Homo sapiens: one gene and its partner. The protein of the gene in region 1 interacts with the protein of each later gene in a pairwise test. Each region holds a gene or a part of one and is shown on either strand. Other genes may lie near its edges.

Region 1 (3,917 bases):
ATGGCTCCTCCACGCTGCCCGGCGGTGACCCCGCGTGCCTGCTCAAGTCCTGCTCCCCCGGCTTGGGGACACGCTCCTCTCCAGCTGCGGCCGGCGGAGGCGCCACCTCCGGGTCGCCCAGGGTGGTGACCCCGGAGCCCGCAGCCCCAGCCACGCAGGTATCGTGGCCTCCGTCCTCCGCGCGACTCCTCGCGGGTCCCGCCTCCCCCTCGCGAGCGGAAGCGCAGGCCTGGCCGTCAGTTCCGGACCGGTCCGCGGACTCTTCCGGCGCGGCGGCGGCGACGGCGACAGCGGGCTCCCGGCGCGCGGCCGGCAGCACCACTGGCAGCGTAACCACCAGCTGCCGCCGGGCCTTGTTGAATTGTGCCTTGCCGCGGCCATCGTCCACTGGGTACGGGAGCGAGAGCCGCAGCCGGTAGTCAGGTTTCCTCGAGTCGAGGCACAGCAGCTTTCTCGTTACCTCCAGCGCCGCCTGCTCGGCCGAGCGCAACAGCGGCAGTTCGATGGTGATCACCAGCTCATGGGGCACGGGGCTCGGGGCTGAGTCCCTGGAGCAGCGGTAATCCTGGAGGTCCACGTGGTGGCGCTGCACCACGCTGTAGCGAGGCTCGGTGGGGGCGGGCTGCAAGGCCGCTTCCGGAGGGGAGGGCGCCCGGGGCCCGGGGGCTGCCGGGTACTGGTAAGGGTAGGGGAAGTCCGGGAGAGGACCCTTCGGCTCCCCGTCAGGCCTTGCGGGGATGACCCCGGGCAGGGGCGTGCGCAGCACCGCAGCCTCTGGGGTCCCCTTATACTTGGCCTTCAGGGTCTTGGCATTCCTGCGGTCCAGCTTCACGCCGAACTGCTTCTCGACGGCCTCCAGGGCCGTGGCGTCCAGCATCTGGCGGAAGCCCTCGTGCCGCCGGGCCAGCGCAAGCGCGTCTGGATGGAAGACCACGTCGTAGACCATGTAGCGGCTGCTGCTGCGCCCCGCGTACTCGCGGCCGGGCGCCAGGCTGTAGGGCAGGGACCAGTGGCTGCCAGGAGCTGCGCCCCGGTCGCCACCGGAGCCGGGCCGGCTGCTGGGCGCGCCCACCAACGCGTTGCTGCAGACATTCACAAAGCAGCGCCGCGCCCCGTCCAGGCTGGTGCGCAGCACATGGCCGGGCTCCGGGTGCACGAACCGCACTTCCACCCCGCGCTCACGCTCTAGCGCGGTGATCTCCGCCTCGTAGCGCCGCCGGTTCTCCGGGTCGGTGAGCTCCTCGGCGTACTGGGAGAACATTCGCCGGAACTCCGGGTCCTGGAAGGCGGAGGTGAGCCGCTGGACCTCCTCTCCGCTCAGGTCCAAGTCCTCCAGCGACGAGGAGGCCGCCGCTTTGGCCATACTGTCCTGTGGCTCCTCGCCCTCGGGCCAAAGGCGATCAGTCTGACACTGGGTTGGGGGATCCGCCTCAGAGTTTCTGGGCAGCGTACAGTGACGCGGTGGAGGTCGGTAACGGCTGGAAAATTGAGCCTTGAGCAGCGCGTGCTTGTTGTCATAGTTACACCACTAACATTCGGGAGGAGGGGTAGAGATCATGGTGGAATAGGCCGGGCGCGGTGGCTCAGGCCTGTAATCCCAGCACTTTGGGAAGCCTAGGCGGGCGGATCACGAGGTCAGGAGATCGAGACCATCCTGGCTAACACGGTGAAACCCCGTCTCTACTAAAAATACAAAAAATTAGCCGGGCATGGTGGCGGGTGCCTGTAGTCCCAGCTACTCGGAAGGCTGAGGCAGTAGAATGGGGTGAAACCCAGGAGGCAGAGCTCTTGCGGTGAGCCAAGATCGCGCCACTGCACTCCGGCCTGGGCGACAGAGCAAGTCTCTCAAGGAAATCATGGTGGAATAGTGGAAATGCCAGAAATAGCCCTCTTAGATTCTTCAAACCAACCCACCACCGTACTTTGTTTTGTTTTGTTTTGTTTTTCTTTTTTTGAGACAGAGTCTCGCTCTGTCACCCAGGCTGGAGTGCAGTGGCGCAGTTTCGGCTCACTGCAAGCTCCACCTCCCAGGTTCACGCCACTCTCCTGCCTCAGCCTCCCGAGCAGCTGGGACTACAGGCGCCTGCCACTACGCCCAGCTAATGTTTTGTATTTTTACTAGAGACAGGGTTTCACCGTGTTAGCCAGGATGGTCTCGATCTCCTGACTTCGTGATCCGCCCGCCTCGGCCTCCCAGAGTGCTGGGATTATAGGATTACAGGCATGAGCCACCACACCAGGTCCAAAACCTTTTTTTTTTTTTTTTTTTTTTTGAGGCTGTCTCACTCTGTCACCCAGGCTGGAGTGCAGTGGTGCAGTCTTGGCTCACTGCAACCTCCGCCTCCCGGGTTCAGGCAATTCTCCCTGCCTCAGCCTCCCAGGTAGCTGGGATTACAGTGACTCACCACCACGTCCGGCTAAGTTTTGTATTTTTAGTAGGGATGGGATTTCACCATGTTGGCCAGGCTGGTCTCCCACTCTTGACCTCATGTGATCTGCCCACCTCAGCCTCCCAAAGTGCTGGGATTACAGGCATGAGCCACCGCGCCCGGCCTAAAACCTTTCTAATGTGCATATTTTTTTGACCCAAATGCCCTTAGAGTATTTGACACAATACTCTTAGAACATTCTCAAGGTGACATCATTTATGATTCTAAAGGTTTGAGAAGAATCTACAAATTCAACAATGGAACTGATTGAGCAGGTTTTGGTAGAGCCACGCAACAGAGTTTTGTGCAACCATTCAAAATGATCATATGGAAGTATATTTATTTACTGGAGTAATTATTTATTCATTGGTAATTGGTCAATTCAGTGATCATTTTTCTATTCTCAGCAACATTTAACACAGTTGATGTTGGCATTACCTCAGTGACAAGACACTTTCCAGATTTCTCTTCTGTCTCATCACTCTCATAGTTTTGCTCTGTAGGTATCTACTTCTTTTCAACTTCTACATGGAAATGCCCCAAAACTGGGACCCAATCTCTTACCCATCTATACTCTCCTTCAGAAATATATTTACACTCACAAATACTTGTCTTAGACTCAGATTTTACACTCCTATATCCAGCTGCACGTTTGAGGTGTCCATTTGAGTGATTAATGCATAAGCTACTCAGGCTTGAAATGACCAAGATCAGAACTCCTGAATCCTCTTTTCCCAAACCACTGCCTTATCTTATGGTCTCTTGGAAGCATTCAAAGCAGTTGACTGCCCCTTCGAAACACATTTTTCTCATGTTTTGCAGAACTCCAAGCTCTCCCATTTTCCTCCTTTATGCTCCTGCCAGTTCTGCAAATGTGGGAGTTGCCCAAGGCTTTGTTCATCAGCCCTCTTACCTAATCACATTTCTTCCAAGATGTCTTATCCAAGCCCATAGTTTTAAATGCCATCTGTGTTCAAATTAGTCCTTTCAACAGATATTTATTGTGTGCTTATTGCACTTATTATATAGGTAATTAACAAAGATGTGAAGCAGTTGCATTGCTTTTTTTTTTGAGACAGAGTCTTGCTCTGTCGCCTAGACTGGGGTGCTTTGGCGCGATCTTGGCTCACTGCAACCTCCGCCTCCTGGGTTCAAACAATTCTCCTGCCTCAGCCTCCCAAGTAGCTGGGATTGCAGGCACCTACCACTGCGCCCAGCTAATTTTTGTATTTTTTAGTAGAGATGGGATTTCACCATGTTGGTCAGGCTGGTCTCCAACTCCTGAGCTCAGGTGATCCGCCCACCTCGGCTTCCCAAAGTGCTGGGATTACAGGCACAAGCCACCATGCCCAGCCAGCAATTGCACTTTCATATCCTGGGAGTATATATTGGAACACTGTTAACATAAGGCTTACGACAATGAAATTCTCCCAGATACACATTCAACAGAAACACATATCCCCACCAAAACACATGTACTACAATGTG
Region 2 (3,917 bases), on another chromosome or scaffold:
GATGACTGAATAATTATCTCTGTCATATAAAACTTGGTGGTTTCTAGAAACAAAAAAGAAAATTAAGACTCTCCCCAATACACTAATAATTTTATTGTGGGCAAGTTGACTCCAAATTAGGATATTCCAAACTAAATATTAAATATACTGGTAAAATTAATATTCTGTAAACATTTTCCCAAAACTACTTAGTTTCAGAAGACAAAGCATTGGTCACTACAAGGAGATAGTTCTGAAGCTTCTGTGTCTTTTTAGAAAATAATGCCCAGAGACTCTGCTTACACATATGGAAGATTATAAAAGTTAGTCACATCACAGGCATAGTGCACTTAGATAGAAATTAGTCACTGGGTTTCCTCAATTCTACAGAATAGCTACAAACCTGTAAGTCAATGAAAAAGACTTCTGGTTTGTTTTTGGTTTTGATGTACTATTTTCCCAGATAAAGGCAGTTCTAATGGCTTCCACTTGGTCTTTTCTACCATAATAGCCTCAATACACACTTTGGGGAACTAACGTGGGGATTCTGCCAGCTGCTAAGTGTGTTAATTTGAGTTAAGCACTCTGGAATTCGGGAATAATCACAGGAAGCATTCAGGGATCCACTGGACCCACCGTGAGATGGACCTGAGTTAAAACTCTATTGATCACCTGACCCCATCCCCTACTCTAATTGGAAGGCCACAGTGATGTTTTGGGTCTTCTAGAATTGGTGTTCATTTAGAACCAGTGTCCAGCAGTCCCTAAAAGGTGTGATTATTTCCTTTTCCCCAGTGCGCATGGGGAACTGTTACCCTGAGAAAGGCCATGGTTCCCTTTGTGGAAGCCTGGGAGAAAGATTAACGGTATAAATTTCAGGTAGCATCGTTTTTCGTTGAGGGCATCTGTCCTCTCCTTCATTCAAGGGGTCCTGGGCCTACAAAGGCTCAAGTGTGAGAATTGATTGAGGGGCCAGGACTCTCTGTTTTTATGATTCAAGCTCGACTTTTATTCACTTGACATAGAACTTTCTTATACAAATCAAGTAAGATTTTAGCAGGCTTGCTATCTAATTCACTTCTAGACAACACCATGATCAACTAGCAAACATCATATAACTGAATAACTCAGATTATTCCAATTGTTGCCTTGCTTTCTGTCCATTACACTAACCACACCTACCTTGCCTTTGATGTTCCAGTGCTCCTACCTGAAAAGGGGTTTTTAATCACAGCATCCCAAAACACAGATGCGGTGAACCTCACATTAGAATCTACCCAGAATCTCAATGACTCTATTGATATACAATTCTCACTAAATCTGGTTATCTGATTGCTTACAGAAAAATTTAAATAGAAATTTAATAGACATAAATGTAAACACAATCATCTTGGAGTTCTAAAAAAATCTAAGAAAAAGTTTAATCTCACTAACGATGAAGAAAATGTACATCAAAATAAGATTTTTTTTTTTTGCATCAAACAAAATATTTTAAAATGATAAGGTGTACTGCTGGATACGCTTATTTATATAGATGGATATGCTTATTCACACACTGCTGTGAGAACAGAAAATGACAGACTTCCGGAAAGCCACTTGGCAAAGGCCTTAAAATTGTATATGTAGGGCTGGGTGCAGTGACTCACGCCTGTAATCCCAGCACTTTGGGAGGCTGAGGCGAGCAGATCACCTGGGGTCAGGCGTTTGAGACCAGCCTGGCCAACATGGTGAAACCCTGTCTCTACTAAAAATACAAAAATTAGCTGGGCGCAGTGACTCCCACCTGTAGTCCCAGCTACTCGGGAGGGTGAGGCAGGATAATTGCTTGAAACCAGGAGGCAGATGTTGCAGTGAGCCGAGATCGTGCCACTGCACTCCAGCCTGGGCGACAGAACGTGACTCCATCTTAAAAAAAAAAAAAAAAAAAAAAAGAAAAATTGTGTATGTATTGTGGCACCATAATTAAACATATAAGAATTTATTTCAAAAAAATACTCACTGGTATATGAAAACACTTATCTATAGTGATACTCATAATATCAATAGAAAAATACTGAAAACAAATGTCTAAAAATTGAGGATGGGTTAAATATTCAGGCAACATAACTGCATGCATGTTTCAAATTTTAAATAGGTCAAATTCAAACCAGAAATAATTAAAAATGAGGCTGTCATTAAAAATGGTGGTGTTGCCCAGGTACAGTGGCTCATACTTAATCCCAGCACTTTGGAAGGCCAAGGCAGGACGATCACTTCAAGCCCAGGAGTTTGAGACCATTCTGGACAACAAAGTGACAGCCTGTCTCTACAAAAAATTCTTTTAAAAATTAGCCAGGCAGAGTGGCATGTGCCTGTAGTTCCAGCTACTCGGGAGGCTGAGGCAAGAGGACTGTTTGAGCCCAGAAGTCTGAGGCTTCAATGAACTACTGCGCTCCAGCCTGAGAGACAGAGTAAGATCCCATCTCTTAAAAAATAAAATAAAATAGTGTTGTCAAACAACTTTTAATAAGACAAAGTTATTTTTTGAAAAAGTGTGTAATTGCTCAATATTACACACAGAAAGGTAAAAAAAATAAATGGTTTCATAGATTAATATATAGACAGCCATGACAGATTTACCCATTTATCATTGAAGATGTGTCAATATTTACTATTTTGAAATCGTTATTACACGCAGGACTAAACTAAACCTTTTTAACTTTATGAAATGCCTATGTATTTATTTATTTACTTATTTAAGACAGGGTCTTGCCCTGTTGCCCAATTAGGGTGCAGTGGTGTGATCACAGCTCACTGTACCTCGAACCCCTGGGCTTAAGTGATCCTTCCGCATCAGCCTCCTGAGTAGCTAGCACTACAGGCATGCACCACTATGCCCAGTTAATTTTTTGTAGAGACCAGGTTTCACTATGTTGCCTAGGCCGGTCTCAAGGGATCCTCTCATCTCCGCCTCCCAAAGCAGAAGTGACCCTTTTTATTTCATGTGTTGTTAATCTAAAATTTAATTATATTATTTTAATCCCACAAGTATTATTTCTATTGTTTTATAGTTAATATTCATTTAAGTGTTATGTGAATATTCACGATTTTATCAACCCTTATTGAACTTAGATCTTCTATGTGGGATCATTTTCTTCTACCTGAGTACAGGTACAATTTCTTTTCATAAGAAACCACTATGGGCTGGGCGCAGTGGCTCACGCCTGTAATCCCAGCACTTTGGGAGGCTGAGGCGGGAGGATCACAAGGTCAGGAGTTCAAGACCAGCCTGGCCAACATGGTAAAACCCCATCTCTACTAAAAATACAAAAATTAGCCGGGCGTGGAGGTGCATGTGTGTAATCCCAGCTACTTGGAAGGCTGAGGCAGGAGAATCGCTTGAACCCAGGAGGCGGAGGTTGCAGTGAGCCAAGACCGCACCACTGTGCTCCAGCCTGGCGACAGAGCGAGACTCCGTCTCAAAAAAAAAAAAAAAAAAAAAAAAAAAGAAACCACTAGTATTGAATTAACCTAGATTAACCTAGTTTGTGTTTGTCAGAAAACATATTTATCTTAGCCTTAATTCTTGAAGGAAATTTTCACTTGAGATTAAGTCCTAGGATCAACAGTTATTTGCACACATTGGCAATATTGTTCTACCGTCTTCAGACTTCCATTACTGCTGTTCCTTTGAAGGCACTCTGTCATTTTTTCTTTAGCTGCATTTAAGATTATCTTCACTTTTTATTCTACAGTATTACTCGCATGTGTCTAAGTATGGATTTCTTTTTATTTTTCTTGCTAGGGCTTTGCCGAATTGGAATTCACTGGGTCCCTTGAATCTATAGATTGCTATTCTTCATCACTTTTGTAAAATTCTCAACAATTATCTCTTCAAATATTGCCCATGCTCCATTCTTTTCCTCCTGGAAGTCTGATTAAACATACATCAGATAGTC

Evidence for each region.
Region 2: the proteins of DNAAF2 (region 1) and UBE3D interact in binary tests that used the Homo sapiens proteins (3 or more experiments, as listed by UniProt).

What each region holds. Positions count from the first base shown.
Region 1 is NC_000014.9:49,633,787-49,637,703, forward strand, and holds the start of DNAAF2 (protein kintoun), read right to left. Parts: upstream 1,459-3,917; 5' UTR 1,364-1,458; coding exon 1-1,363. UniProt on the Homo sapiens protein: Required for cytoplasmic pre-assembly of axonemal dyneins, thereby playing a central role in motility in cilia and flagella.
Region 2 is NC_000006.12:83,023,996-83,027,912, forward strand, and holds part of UBE3D (E3 ubiquitin-protein ligase E3D), read right to left. Parts: intron 1,885-3,917; exon of another isoform or gene 1,763-1,884; intron 44-1,762; coding exon 1-43. UniProt on the Homo sapiens protein: E3 ubiquitin-protein ligase which accepts ubiquitin from specific E2 ubiquitin-conjugating enzymes, and transfers it to substrates, generally promoting their degradation by the proteasome.